Homo sapiens: one gene and its partners. The protein of the gene in region 1 purifies or fractionates together with the protein of each later gene. This does not show direct contact. Each region holds a gene or a part of one and is shown in the gene's direction. Other genes may lie near its edges.

The links.
Region 2: the proteins of HEATR5B (region 1) and STRN purify together in Homo sapiens (affinity purification with mass spectrometry, with the first as the bait; one study listed by BioGRID). This does not show direct contact.
Region 3: the proteins of HEATR5B (region 1) and ELAVL1 purify together in Homo sapiens (affinity purification with mass spectrometry, with the first as the bait; one study listed by BioGRID). This does not show direct contact.
Region 4: the proteins of HEATR5B (region 1) and PPP6R2 purify together in Homo sapiens (affinity purification with mass spectrometry, with the first as the bait; one study listed by BioGRID). This does not show direct contact.

Annotation. Positions count from the first base shown.
Region 1 is NC_000002.12:37,053,371-37,056,940, reverse strand, and holds part of HEATR5B (HEAT repeat-containing protein 5B), read left to right. Parts: intron 1-325; coding exon 326-501; intron 502-3,333; coding exon 3,334-3,439; intron 3,440-3,570.
Region 2 is NC_000002.12:36,840,982-36,844,551, reverse strand, and holds part of STRN (striatin), read left to right. Parts: 3' UTR 1-3,570. UniProt on the Homo sapiens protein: Calmodulin-binding scaffolding protein which is the center of the striatin-interacting phosphatase and kinase (STRIPAK) complexes.
Region 3 is NC_000019.10:7,995,578-7,999,147, reverse strand, and holds part of ELAVL1 (ELAV-like protein 1), read left to right. Parts: intron 1-3,570. UniProt on the Homo sapiens protein: RNA-binding protein that binds to the 3'-UTR region of mRNAs and increases their stability.
Region 4 is NC_000022.11:50,346,287-50,349,856, forward strand, and holds part of PPP6R2 (serine/threonine-protein phosphatase 6 regulatory subunit 2), read left to right. Parts: intron 1-3,570. UniProt on the Homo sapiens protein: Regulatory subunit of protein phosphatase 6 (PP6). May function as a scaffolding PP6 subunit. Involved in the PP6-mediated dephosphorylation of NFKBIE opposing its degradation in response to TNF-alpha.

The DNA of each region.
Region 1 (3,570 bases):
CTTATGTACTTTTTAAAGAGTGATTAAAGCCCCATTTAAAATAATTGTGGGATTAAGATCTTGTGTATATTGTTCACGCAATAAGGTGGGTGGTGTAAATATGTTTTCGAATGAATAAAGCTTTTCTTAAAATTTGTATAAGGTGTTACTGATGATTTTTTAATGACCAAATTACATTTTGGTCTGTTTTCAAATGTTCGGATCCAATCATTCTTTTTTTGTTGCCTTTTCTCCTTTCTCCTCTGCTGTAATCCTCATTCCCAATGTTTAATAAGTAGATTTCCTAAAGTAGATTTTGAATAATTTTTATTTCACTCTTTTGCAGCTCCAGCCAAACAGTGCCTCTGGAAGTGGGGCTCTGGAGCATGATCCTTCCTCTATTTATTTACGCATACCTGCTGGAGAAGCAGTACCTGGTCCCCTCCCTCTCGGAGTCTCAGTCATTGATGCTTCTGTGGCCCTTTTTGGTGTAGTGTTTCCTCATGTTTCTTATAAACACCGGTTAGTATAAAGTCAATCAGGTAATTTTTGTTAAATATATATTATGTTAAACGAAAAGTAGATTTTCTCATCCCAGTTAACTCTGCAATAAAGTGAGTTATTATAATACTTAAAACAGTACTCTTACAGATTTACTAATGTAAGTGACAGATACATGATAAAAAAATTGCATGCAAATTGCACATAATTTGAGACTTTATGTAAGATTTGACCCTGTGTACTAGCATCTGATATCTGTTGTATTGTGGACTGTATTTTATAACAAAATTTTCATTATATATGCTAGAATGACAACTGTTGGCAAAAAAAAAAATGCATTATAATAGTTTGTTTGATAGTTCATACATAGGTTTTGACTATATCTTAAATTAAGGACATCAGTTTGCTAAGCCTGTTGACTTTGTTGTTGAGGAAGTAAATGGATGAAAATTCCAATCACTAATAACGTTTGTGAGATGGTTCAAGTCTAGAACTTGGAAACTAACATAATTGGTTCTTTTTGTAATAGAAGCATTTTGGTTTGGTATATTCTGTATCCACAGACACTATTCCTAGCTTTAGTAGGCAGTTTGTATATTGTGATTTTCCCAAAAGGAAAACAGAAATGAATTAATACAAGACCATCACAGATAACTTAAAAGCTTTACAAAATTAAAATGCCTTAAAAGTATTGTTGGGTCTGGTGTGGTGGCTTATGTCTGCAATCCCAGCGCTTTGGGAGGCTAAGGCAAGAGAATTGCTTGAGGCAAGGAGTTTCAGACCAGCCTGGGAAACATAGTGAGACACTCATCTCTACAAAAATTACAAAATAAAAAATGTCTTTAATATGTAGGTTGCTTGATTAATTGCTTTTTAATTTGAGGAGAAAAAAGTTTAAATATGAAACTTTACCCAAATATCTTTAAGAACATTTGGTTGCCACATAAATGTTAAATGATGTTAAAGGTGGAAGAATCTTATAAAGCATCTATTTCAACATTTTGGTTTTAAATCTTAAGGACATCCATATCTAAGAGTTTGGTTTACCCAAGGTTATACAACTAGTTATGAAAGCTATAACTGAAATCCAGGATTATCTCAATTCTGTATGATCACTTTTACAGAATAAGATGAAGTATAAATAAATAAATTCTATTAAAAATATAAACATATAATAAATAACATAAATATTCAACAGTAGGAGGATAAGTGAATAAATAATAGAAAGTCCATTTTTGTAGAGACAGTGTTTTGATAGAAGATGCTCATGATACAATGTTAAATTAAAAAGGTAAAAAGCAAGAAGTGATCCTACTTTGGTTTTCAACCAGCAGGCTGTGCGGCTTAATATATTTACTGCTGTTCTTAGTGCACAAAAGGTACTTACTTACTTTTAAGAATTTTTTAAAGTACATCAAAATGTGCATGTATACACGTACATCTGAATCTGTATCTTCATATGAGTTTTGAATAATGCTTTGACCTGAGACCTGAGACCTGTAGACTAGTATAAATTGAGCTTTAAATCCTTACAGCGACCTCAGGGAGATTTTATTACCAACTTGAGGTCATAATTGTCTTAGTACTAAATCCAACTTCCTTGGATTCCTTTGTTTCACATCATTTCTTTTTAGAAGAATGCTCTCTCACTCTCTTTTTATCAAAATCTTCTGAAATGGGCCGGGCGTTGTGGCTCACACCTGTTATCCCAGCACTTCGGGAGGCAAAGGTGGGCAGATCACCTGAGGTCAGGAGTTTGAGACCAGCCTGGCCAACATGGTAAAATCCTTCTCTACTAAAAATACAAAATTAGCTGGGTGTAGTGGCGAACACCTGTAGTCCCAGCTACTCGGGAGGCTGAGGCAGGAGAATCATATGAACCCAGGAGGCAGAGGTTGCAGGGAGGCAAGATTGCACCATTGCACTCCAGCCTGGGCAACAAGAGCGAAACTCAGTCTCAAAAAAAAAAAAAAAAAAAAATGCAGAGCACAGTGGCTCACGCCTGTAATCCCAGCACTTTGGGAGGCCGAGGTGGGCAGATCACCTGAGGTCGGGAGTTCGAGACCAGCCTGACCAACATGGAGAAACCCAGTCTCTACTAAAAATACAAAATTAGCCAGGCGTGGTGGCGCATGCTACTCGGGAGGCTGAGGCAGGAGAATCACTTGAACCTGGGAGGTGGAGATTGTGGTGAGCCGAGATCGCGCCATTGCACTCCAGCCTGGGCAACAAGAGCGAAACTCCATCTCAAAAAAAAAAAAAAAAAAACAGAGAAATCATCTAAGATGGCCATGGATTTTTTTTTTTTAATAAACTGATTCTTTTTTATTAATATAAAAAACAATTCACTTCTGGTTTTTTACATTTAAAAAAATTAGCCAAAGCTAAATCTTTTTTGAACTTTCCCAAAAGCTTCTGAGGCTAGGACATGAGGTACTATTCTAAGAGTATTTTTAAAATAGGAAAAAGAATTATACTACATTTAAAATTTTCTAACTTAAAAATCTTCCACGGAGATACATAATTAATGATTGTTATCTTTGCAAGAAACCTTGAGCGTCTACTAGATGCCAGGCGCTTTGTTGGACAGTGCTGTTAATGTTGAAGACCACTGCAATTGTGACCTTATTTTGTTAATTGAAACTCTTTTCTTGTTCCATTTAATAACCGCATGTCCATATAATATTTTGGGAGAAGGAGATCTGGTTTGGACTAGCTGTGGGAATGAAATAGAAAAGAGATAGCATGGGGAATTATTTGCTAAACAATTAACTTGTACTCTTCTTATCCGTTTTTGAGCCATATTGGAATAAAATTTGTCACTAATGTGATTTTTTTTTCTTATTGTTATAGATTACAAATGTTGGATCACTTTGCTGAATGTGTTAAACAAGCTAAAGGTGTCCGCCAGCAGGCTGTGCAGCTTAACATATTTACTGCTGTTCTTAGTGCACTAAAGGTATTTACTTTTAATACATACTATTCTGAAATAAGTTTTTAATTAATGCATTTAATAAGCCAGACATAGCAAGATTATTATAATGTTTATATGTAAATCACTTGGTAACTGTGCCTTTACGTTAGCTTAGT
Region 2 (3,570 bases), 210 kb from region 1:
AACCAGGACCACATGCTTGTCATCTCTCTGATGCAAATTTTCAAAATCATTTTAATTTAGATTCTAATGTCTGCCTGGGTTTTTAACAGGCTGTGAACCAGTGAGTGCCTTGTTAATGTAGAATGATTTTTCCCCCCTGGGTGGGTGTTAGTTAGCTCCTCTCTGAAAATGTCTCAGAGAATGGTATTTTAATTGACTTGTAGAGAGCTGCTAAATTTGTTATTATCAGCAATCAGAAAGTCTTTGGTCTACCACACATCTCCCTCCCTACTATCTCTTCATTGTTTGGCTGAAGTTTGCCTCTTGTGAGAAAACAATACAACTCCCCTTCTCCACACACTTTTTTTCCAGCCCAGATTAATAGGTATCCCCTACCCTAATCCCAACTCTATGATCTAATACCTTTTTTAGGAGGAACCACTTCTTTTTAATATTGAAATCTGCTGGTTACTTTATGTTTTCTCAAGTTCAGTTGACTAGAGCTGACCACAGGGTGTCATCAATTCAGATTCCTAAATAACCCTTTCTCTCCACACCCAGTCCTCCAGCTGGTGAGCCCTGGGCCAGATTGTTTGATCTTCAGGTATTTTAAATTTTAGTTACATCAATTAATGTAAATTAATCCAAATGCTAATTTTTGTGGTGCAAGAAGTTTCTTATGTAAATTCAGGGTATGGATAAGCTAATTAAGATATCCATCTTTGGTGGCTCTAAGTGTATTATTTGTTTTTAAATAAAGTGTACAAATATAGATAACATGCTATAGGTGTCTCATGAATTGGAATATTTGTCAGATTTGGGATCTAGCTGTGGCTTTACAGTAATCAGTTAAATTAACATAGTCTGATTTGGGGCTTTTGGGGGAGGAGTTGTAGAGGGGTGCAGAGAAATAAAAGGATATTAGACAAAGTATACATGAGTCCAAAATTAATGAACCAGTCTTAATTACTGATTGTGAGGAAGGAGAAGTTTATAGAGAATTTGGGCCTCTGAAAAGCCAAATTAAAATAGCTTCTAGGATTGGGTCAGTGGTACTTTCAGAGACACATATGTTTAATGAATAGGTTTTATGTTTTTCAAATGTTCAGTTTAAATGGCTTTTAAAATTTATACACATATATAAATACAATGTTTTTATTTTTTGTTTCGCTACTTAACAGACATACACAAGCCTTCCACACTCCCTGCCCCTTCAAATCAACATTATTTTTCAAGGCCTTTGGCCTGCCCAGAACTCACAGTCTTTTTGTTCCAATCAGGATCCACAATACAATATGAAATTTAAAAGGCATCTCTTCTGATATCCTTGAAACTATCCACCATTGTTTGGTGTTCTGTATGCTGGTATACTAATGAGTATTATATCCTTTGGTATGTACACACATTTTCAGTAGTGTTGGAAACACCTCTTTTATCTTTTTAATGAGAACTGAGACATGATTAGCTTGAGTAATTTTGGAGATCTATCTCAGGAGGTCATTAAAACTCCAAAAATTATTCACGGATTGATGAACCTCCTGGGGTCAGCCTAAGATTGCCAGGTAGTATTCTGACCTCCTCTGGGTTTCCCAAGATCACTGATGTTTTGCAGGGCCCCAGCATTGTCCTGGCACATAAAATATTCCCAGAACACCTTGGGAGTCAAGCATACCTTTTAACCTAAACATTATAATCATGGAGCATCCCTCCGCCTGTTACTTCTCAGGATGACCAGAACACTCCAGTTCTCTAAGGAAGCACTGACATACGGCTCTGAAAATTGGAATCCGTTTTCTGAAACACAAATTTTAACTCAGTAAGTTTTGTATATCAAATGATTCAAAACCCACCAAACATAAAATGACTCGCTTCTAAGTATCACTCAAACCCTACAAAACCTAACCCTTTCCTTATTCCTAATTGATATTTCACTAAAGGTAATGGTAGTTTCAGTTAGATTGGAAGTCATTATTTGGGTGAGCAAAGTCTGCAATAACCTACTGATAGGAAGGACCTATTTCATAGAAAAGTATCTTGTCCTTGGTGATTTAGCCATTCACCTTACGTGAAGAGTGGTCCAGATGCCAGCTCCACATTGACTTTTTCTGTGTCCCTCTTTAGGTAATTAACCCAGTGATGTAAAGGAGAGCCCACAGTAAAACATCTGTTAAACAGCACTTGGAGTACTATAGTGTTATTAATTTATGTGCTATAATTTCTTATGCCATCATAAAATCTAGTGTATGTACCAGGTTCCCAATTCATTGCCTCAAACAAAAGATTTTTAAAAATTCTAATAGCATCAAATTAAGGGTAATGGTAGGGAAACCCATCATCCACAATTAAATATGCCCAAACTGAAAACTTTAAGAAAAAAAAGCACATGGAAAGCAACGTTTTACATTAATCGTGAGTTGTAGAAATAAACAGCTTGTGGTTTGTATATGTGCCGAAATGTTAAAGTATGCTGGCATCCAACTACTTCCCTTTGGAAATGGGACCAAGACAATAATTTTTCATGCATAAACAAAATTAACTTAGAGCAAAAGTAATTTTATCAGAAACAGTTTATTTTGGGGGCTGGATAACTTGGGTGAGAGTGTGGGGAAAGAAGTACCTTACCAAAAAGGAGAAGCAACTGACCCTGTGGCCTGAGCCACATTGTCTTCCATTTCAACTTCAATGGGCTGGCAGTATACCACTTCTGACCTCAAAGAATGAATGGTTCCAATTCTGGCTTGTCATTGGTCCTTGTTATCTAAATTAAATATTTTTAGGAAATATATCAAAAGTATCCTAGAGCCCCATGGCAAAGTGTCAGAGGAAATAGTTTTCATTATATTTTAGGAAGCTGTAAAAATATAAGCCCAAGTATTTTGTGTCATCTGCATATGTCAGGATGAAGACCAGGCATGTAAGAAATATCCTAAAGTAGCCAAGTGATAATCTCATGAAAAAATATGAGAATCGTTTTTACAGAGTGAGTTCTCTTTTGAATGGTTTTGACTATGCTTTTAAAAACATTTTTAAAATGTACTTACATCTTTTTCGATAGCCCACGTATTTCAGAATATCCTCTTGATAGAATAATATCACTCAGTGTGATTTTTAGAAAAAGAAAAACTCGGTGGTCTCATATCTTTTGACAGTTGTTTGTGAATAATACCCTCCCCAACAACCTTCCCAGTACTCAACTGCTATGTAAGAATGCTTTCTTATGTGGTAAATGTCTCAGTATTTTGCTGCCTGGTATTTGTTCAGTTTCCTTGTATATCTCAGGGTCAGAAGGAATCAGGCTTTCTCCCAACTCTGAAACATTCAGACTTACTTTCTTTTTGGTCAGCCTTTTAACAAGCAAGACAATAAACTCCTTTTGTCAGAATCGATTTGATTAAAAAAAAAAAAAAAGAATGTGCTCCTTATTTCTCATTGCTGTAGAATACGTAGGAATACACATCTACTAATCACAATTAAAAAATAAGAGAATCTTTAGAAACATCATTGCTTTCTGGAGGTAGAAATTTTGAACTTGAAGGTTGTAGTTCCAGGCAATTTTGTGCCCTTGAGGTGTCCAATTGATAGTATAGCTTG
Region 3 (3,570 bases), on another chromosome or scaffold:
GCCTACCTCGGCCTCCCACATTGCTGGGATTACAGGCATAAGCCACCACGCCAGGCCAGGAAGGTAGCTTTTTAAAGATGAGCCAGCCTGGTGTAGTGGCTCTCACCTATAATCCCAGCACTTTGGGAGGCCCAGGTGGGAGGATGACTTGAAGCCAGCATGGGCAACAAAATGAGACCCCTGTCTCTAAAAAAATTTAAAAATCAGCCAGGTATGGTGGCACACACCAGTAGTCCCAGCTACTTGGGAAACTGAGGCAGTTTGAGGCTGCAGTGAGCCGTGATTATGCCACTGCACTCTAGTTTGGCAGCAGAGCAAGACCCTTTCTCAAAAGAAAAATAAGTAAAAATAGAAGTGAGCTGGGAGGCCAGGCATGGTGGCTCACACCTGCAATTCCAGCACTTTGGGAGGCCAAAGTAGGAGGATCACTTGAGCTTGGGAGTTCAAGACCAGCCTGGGCAACAAAGAGAGACCCCCATCTCTTTAAAAAAAAATACTAATTTTAAAAAATGAGCTGGGAAGTGAAGGAGAGGACACTAGTGCCCTGCAGAGGGAACAGCCAAAGCAGAGGCCTGTAGCATATTGGCAAGAAGCTGGAGTGAGCGGGAAGGGAGGGTGGCGACTGAGGCTGGAGAACCACCTGGGTCCGATTGTGAAGGGCCTTGCCAGTTTGACAGTTGCATTGTCATGACAACTTGAGGCCTGGCCCTGCCACTTATTAATGGCATGCCTGACCGTGAGCATCATCGTGTGACCGCCGAGCCTCAATGGGTGGTGACCACTGACAGGGAATACCAGAGGGGTGAGCATCTTGATTGCAGGACAGTGCAGGCCTTGCACCTCGAGAGACAGAAGTGGCTACGACTTGGGAGTCAGTGATAATTGAGTGGTGACAAGGCCCAGTTGTGGTTGGAGCTTGTGGGATAGAAGCTGATTTGGCCCAGGATTGATGATGCAGATTTGGAGAAGGTCAAGGGAAGGGCCTCCAGAGAGTGGGGTGGGGGCCCAGAAACGTCATGAAACTGCTTTGCAGGGCAGGTTGTTGGTTTCTCCCGTGTTACTAGTTGACCAAGAACTTGACCTGCAGGGGCTGCTCAGCCTTGACTCAGAGTGTCAGGAGGAACAGGGCCGCAAAGCAGAAGTTCTCTTTTTAAACCTTTTAAAATTTATTTTTATTGTGGTTTTGTTGTTGTTTTTGAGGCAGGATCTCACTCTGTCGCCCACGCTGGACTGCAGTGGCACAATCATAGCTAACTGCAGTATTGACCTCCCAGGCTCTAGTGATCCTCCCAGCTGAGCCCCCCGATTAGCTGGGATTGCATACAGGTGTGCATCACCATTCCTGGGTAATTTTTAATTTTTTTTTTTTTTGTAATGATGGCATCTCTCTGTGCTGCCCAGGCTGGTCTTGAACTCCAGGCTTAAGCAGTCCTCCCACCTTGGCCTCTGAAAGCGCTGGGATTAAAGGCATGAGTCGCCACACTCAGACAATTTATTTTTAAATTTGCATGTAGGAAAATTCATTTTTTCGAGTAGAGTTCTCTGAGTTTTGACAAACGGATAAAGTTGTTTGATTACCACCATAATAAAGATTGGAAAGTTCGCTCTCCCACAAACAGAAATACTCCCTCCTCCTGTCCCTGTGTAATCGACTTTTCCCCTCACTCCCTAACCCCAGCGACCACAGATCCATCCCTATGGTTTTGCCTTTTCCAGGAAGGCACAGAAATGATGTGGCAAGATGTGTTTGAGATTCACACAAGTAGCATGAATTGGTGATACCTTTTATTGCCAGGTGGTATTCTGTTGTATGGTGTATCCCAGTTTATCCATGAATGGCTTGAAGAATATTTGGGTTGTTGTAGTTTTGGATGATTATGAATAATGCCGCTCTGCACATTTATATACAGATTTTTGTGTGAATATAGATTTTCCTTTCTATTGCCTTAATACTAGGAGTAGGATTGCTGGATCCCATGCTAAGTGTATATTTCACCATAAGAAACTGCCAATCTGTTTTCCAAAGTGGCTGTCACATTTCACATTTTTGCATTCCCACCAGCAGTGCATGAATATTCTGGCTTCTCCACATCCCTGCCAGCACTTGACATTGTCTGTTTTGTTGCTGTTGGTTGTTTTTTGTTTTATTTTGCTTTAGCCATTCTAATAAGTGGGTAGCGGTGTCTCGATGTGGTTTTAATTTGACTAATGATGTTGAGCATCTTTTCATGTGCCTGTCTGCCATCCATATATATTCTTTGGTATAGTATCTGTTCAAATCTTTTGCCATTTTTGAAACCAGGTTGTTTGCTCATTATGTTGTTTTTGGTTTTTGGAGATGGAGTCTGGCCCTATCGCCCAGTTTGGAGTACAGTGGCGCCATCTCGGCTCATTGCAACCTCTGCCTCCCAGGTTCAAGCGATTCTCCTGCCTCAGCCTCCCCAGTAACTGAGATTACAGATGCCCACCACCACGCCTTGCTAATTTTTTTTTTGTTGTATTTTTGTAGAGATGGGGTTTCACCATGTTGGCCGGACTGGTCTCAAACTCCTGACCTCAGGTGATCCACCCACCTCGGCCTCCCAAAGTGCTGGAATTCCAGGCATGAGCCAGCACACTAGCCTGCTTCTGTTTTGAGAGCTTAAAAAAAAGTGTTCTGGGCCAGGCGTGGTGGCTCACGCCTGTAATCCCAGCACTTTGGGAGGCCGAGGTGGGCAGATGGGCAGATCACGAGGTCAGGAGATGGAGACCATCCTGGCTAACACGGTGAAACCCCGTCTCTACTAAAAATACAAAAAATTAGCTGGGCATGGTGGCGGGCGCCTGTAGTCCCAGCTACTTGGGAGGCTGAGGCAGGAGAATGGCATGAACCCGGGAGGTGGAGCTTGCAGTGAGCGGAGATCATGCCACTGCACTCCAGCCTGGGTGACAGAGCAAGACTCCATTTCAAAAAAAAAAAAAAAAGGGTTCTGGGTTGGGTGAGGTGGCTTACGCCTATAATTCTAATACTTTGAGAGGCCAAGATGGGAGGATCACTTGACACCAGGAATTCAAGACCAGCGTGGGCAACATAGTGAGACCCTATCTCGACAAAAAATAAAAAATTAGCCAGAAGGCTGAGGCAGGAGGATTGCTTGAACCCAAGAGTTTGTGGCTGCAGTGAGCTATGATTATGGCATTGCACTTCAGCCTGGGCAGTGGAGTGAGACTTTGACTCAAAAAAAAAAAAAAGTGTTCTGACTACAAGTCCCTTTTGCAAATGTTTACTCCAGTTGGTGGATTTTAATTCTCCTAGCAGTATCTTTCACAGAGCAAAAGTTTCAAATTTTGATGATATCCAGTTTATCCATTTTTTTTTTTTTTTAACGAAGTGGGCTTTTGGTGTTGTGTCTGAGAAATCTTTCCCCAGCCCAATGCCACAAAGATTTTTCTCCAAGAAATTTTATGTTTTTACATTTTAAAACAGAGGTCGGCAGATTTTTTTTGTGTGAAGAGCCAGATGGTAAATATTCTCAGCTTTTTTGGCCATACGGTTGCTACTACTTAACTGTGTTATTGTAGTACAAAACT
Region 4 (3,570 bases), on another chromosome or scaffold:
CCCCTTCAGTGTCCCCCAGTCAGTTCCCCTCAGTCAGTGCCCCCCCAGTCAGTTCCCCCCGCAATCAGTTCCCCCGTCAGTGCCCCCTCCAGTCAGTGCCCCCCAAATCAGTGCCCCCAGTCAGTGCCCACTCCAGTCAGTTCCCCTCCAGTAAGTGCCCCCCAAGTCAGTTTCCTCCCAAGTCAGGGCCCCCTCCAGTCAGTTCCCTCCCAGTCAGTCAGTGCCCCCCCAGTCAGTGCCCTCCTTCTGTTCCCCCACCCTACACCAGTCAGTGCTTCCTGCACCAGTCAGTGTCCCCTGCTAGCTAGTCATTGCACCTCACCCATCAGTCCCCACCCCACCCATCAGTGCCCCCCACCGTCAGTCAGTGCCCCTTGCAAGTCATGCTCCTCCTGTCGGTCAGTGCCTCCGCATCTGTCAGTCCGCGCACTGGTCAGTGCCTCCACTGTTGGTCAGTGCTCCCCCACCGTCAGTCCACTCTGCTCCCCATCAGTGTCCCCCAGTCAGAGTCCCGCATCCCTGTCCCCCGTCAGCCAGTGCCCCCCCAGTCAATTATTTTCTTTCTGTCATGTCCCCACTTCCCATCAGTGCCTGCACCCCCACCCGTACCCGTCAGTCACTGACCGCATAATCCCTCCCCTGCCAGTGCCCTTCCTTGTCAGTCCAAGCGCTCTGTGACCCCTTCTGTCAGCAATGTCCCCACCTGTCATTGATCTTCTCTGTCAGTGCCCCCCATCAGTGCCAGTGCCTCTGTCAGTGAGCCCCACTGTCAGTAAGTTTCCCTCATAAGTGTCTCCCTCATCCTGCCTGTTGTGGCCCTTCCGCTCTTTGCTATCGGCCTCTGTGTTAGTGCCTGTCAGATCCTCCCCATCAGTTCTCCCCTGTTGTCAGTTCCTGTCCCCTTTCATGCTACCTCCTTCATCCCTTATCTGTTAGGGACCCATTAGTACCCTGCCCTGCTGTTAGTGACCCCACCTGTCAGTGTCTCCCCACTGCTTCTCTCCTGCCTGTCAGTGGGAGAACTTTCAGTGCCCGCTGTCATCACCCCTCTTGTCCAATCACTGATTCCCCTTTCCATTATTTCCTAACCCTTTCCAACACTACTCGTCTTTTCCTGTCGCGCTCCCCATCACGGCTTGAGATATCACCAGTCATCTAACCTCACCTTACCCCGCACTGCCCTGTTGCTTCCATCCCCATCATCTCTTCCTTCAGCCTGTCACCTTCCCCCATGCACCGTACTGTCCCCCGACCTGCCACTCTGTGTACTCGCAGCTTCCCTACCTGCTTTGTCCACTCTCTTGTTACTGACTCCTCCCAATTTGCTGCTCATTCCCTGACCTGTCAGCACCAGCTCCCCCAAGTCTGTCACTTCCATTTAGTCCCTGCCTTTCACTGCAGCCCCCTCTTTGTCACTGTACCCACTGATTTTGTTCTAGACCCTTCTCCTGTGTCTTGTTCTTTCATCCACCCTTCCCTCATGGCCTCTCTCTGCCCTGCTCTTGGCTTCTCCTTGCCCCTGCAGTTGCCGACACTGTTCACTGTTCACTGAAAGAGGCTCTTCACCTCTTTTTGATGTCCCTTTTTCTGGTTTATCTTCCCTTTGTTTTTATTTTTTACTTTAAAATGTTGTGGGTACACAATAGGTGTATATATCTCTCCCCTTTGACTTTTCTAACTCACTTCAGTTAATCTTTGGAATGTGAGAGGCAGCTAGCTTTGAGACAAATTGGGGGACAGAGTCTCCCATGCTGAGAGGACAGCACATGCAAAGGCCCTGAAGTGGGAAATTTTGGGTGTGATATCCTCCAGGAACCTAGATAAGACTGATGTGCTTATGGTAAGGGAGAGAGAGGCAGGAGCCTGGGCTGGAAAGTTGGTTTTCTCATTAAGCCGTTCCTTGCAGGTGTTAGTAGGGAGTTGGACCTTCAGTCTGAGTTGTAGGAGAAACCTGGCCTGGAGATTGAGTTGGAGAGTGCCATGATCATATGGACATTGGCACGTGGACAGCAGGTGGGGGTGAGATGAAGTGTTGGGAGCTGGGTGTAGTGATTGTAATGGTTTAGAACTTGGTGGTGGGTTTAGGGAGATATTTTGGAGGTAGAGCTGTTGGGACTTGTTGGTAGATGAGAAGAGAGGTGTGAGAGAATGAATGGACTCAGGGTAATTTCTGGGCTGCTTTTATCCTCCCAGCCCCATCAACCCTTCTAGGCTTTCTGATGGAACAAATGGGTGGATAGTAGCACTGTTTATTGAAATAGGGAAGCTGAATTAGGGTGGTGTCAGGGCTGGGGGTGTTACTACAGTTTGGAAGTAGAAAGCAAGGCTTTCTCTTGGCTGAAAGTAGGGGAAGTCTGAGAAGTCCGAGGGTCACTAGGGAGAAGGTATCTTACAGGAGGGTCTGGAACCCAGAGGAGAGGCCAAGCCGCAGGTATACAACTGTCATCATGGGGGCAAGGTATAAAGCCTTGGGGATGGCTATTTATTTAAAAGCACATGGGCTGGGTGCGGTGGTTCACGCCTGTAATCCCAGCACTTTGGGAGGCTGAGGTGGGAGCATCACTTAAGGCCAGGGCAGCCTGGGGACATGACAAAACCCTATCTCTACAAAAACAAAAAGCAGGGCCGGGCGCAGTGGCTCACGCCTGTAATCCCAGCACTTTGGGATGCTGAGGCGGGCGGATCACCTGAGGTCAGGAGTTCGAGACCAGCTTGGCCAACATAGTGAAACTCCATCTCTACTGAAAATACAAAAAAAACTAGCCAGGCATGGTGGTGGGCGCCTGTAATCCCAGCTACTCAGGAGGCTGGGGCAGGAGAATCGCTTGAACCTGGGAGGTGGAGGTTGCAGTGTGCCGAGATTGTGCCATTGCACTCTAGCCTGGGCGACAAGAGTGAGACTTCCTCTCAAAAAAAAAAAAAAAAAAAAAAGTTGGGCATGGTGGTGTGCGCCTATAGTCCCAGCTGCTCGGACACTGAGGTGGCAGGATCACCTGAGCCTGGGGAGGTCAAGGCTGCAGTGAGCTGTGATCACTCCATTGCACTCCAGCCTGGGCGACAGCGTGAGACCCTGTCTCAAAAAAAAAAAAAAAAAAAAACGGGCTGGACGTGGTGACTCGTGCCTATAATCCCAGCACTTTGGGAGGCTGAGGCGGGAGGATCACTTGAGGCCAGGAGTTCTAGACCAGCCTGAGCAACATAGTGAGGCCCCATCTCTGCCAAAAATAAATAAAAGCACACCCACAAAAGCAGAATGTGGCCAGGCATAGTGGCTCATGCCTGTAATCCCAGCAGTTTGGGAGGCTGAGGCAGGTGGATCACCTGAGGTCAGGAATTCGAGACCAGCCTGGCCAACATGGTGAAACCCCGTCTTTACTAAAAATACAAAAAATTAGCCAGGCGTGGTGGCATGCGCCTGTAATCCCAGCTGAGGCAGGAGAATTGCTTGAACCCGGGAAGCGGAGGTTGCAGTGAGCCAAGATCACAACATTGCATTCCATTCTGGGCAACAAGAGTGAAACTCCATCTTAAAAAAAAAAAAAACAGAAAAAAGCAGCTGGGTGTGGTGGC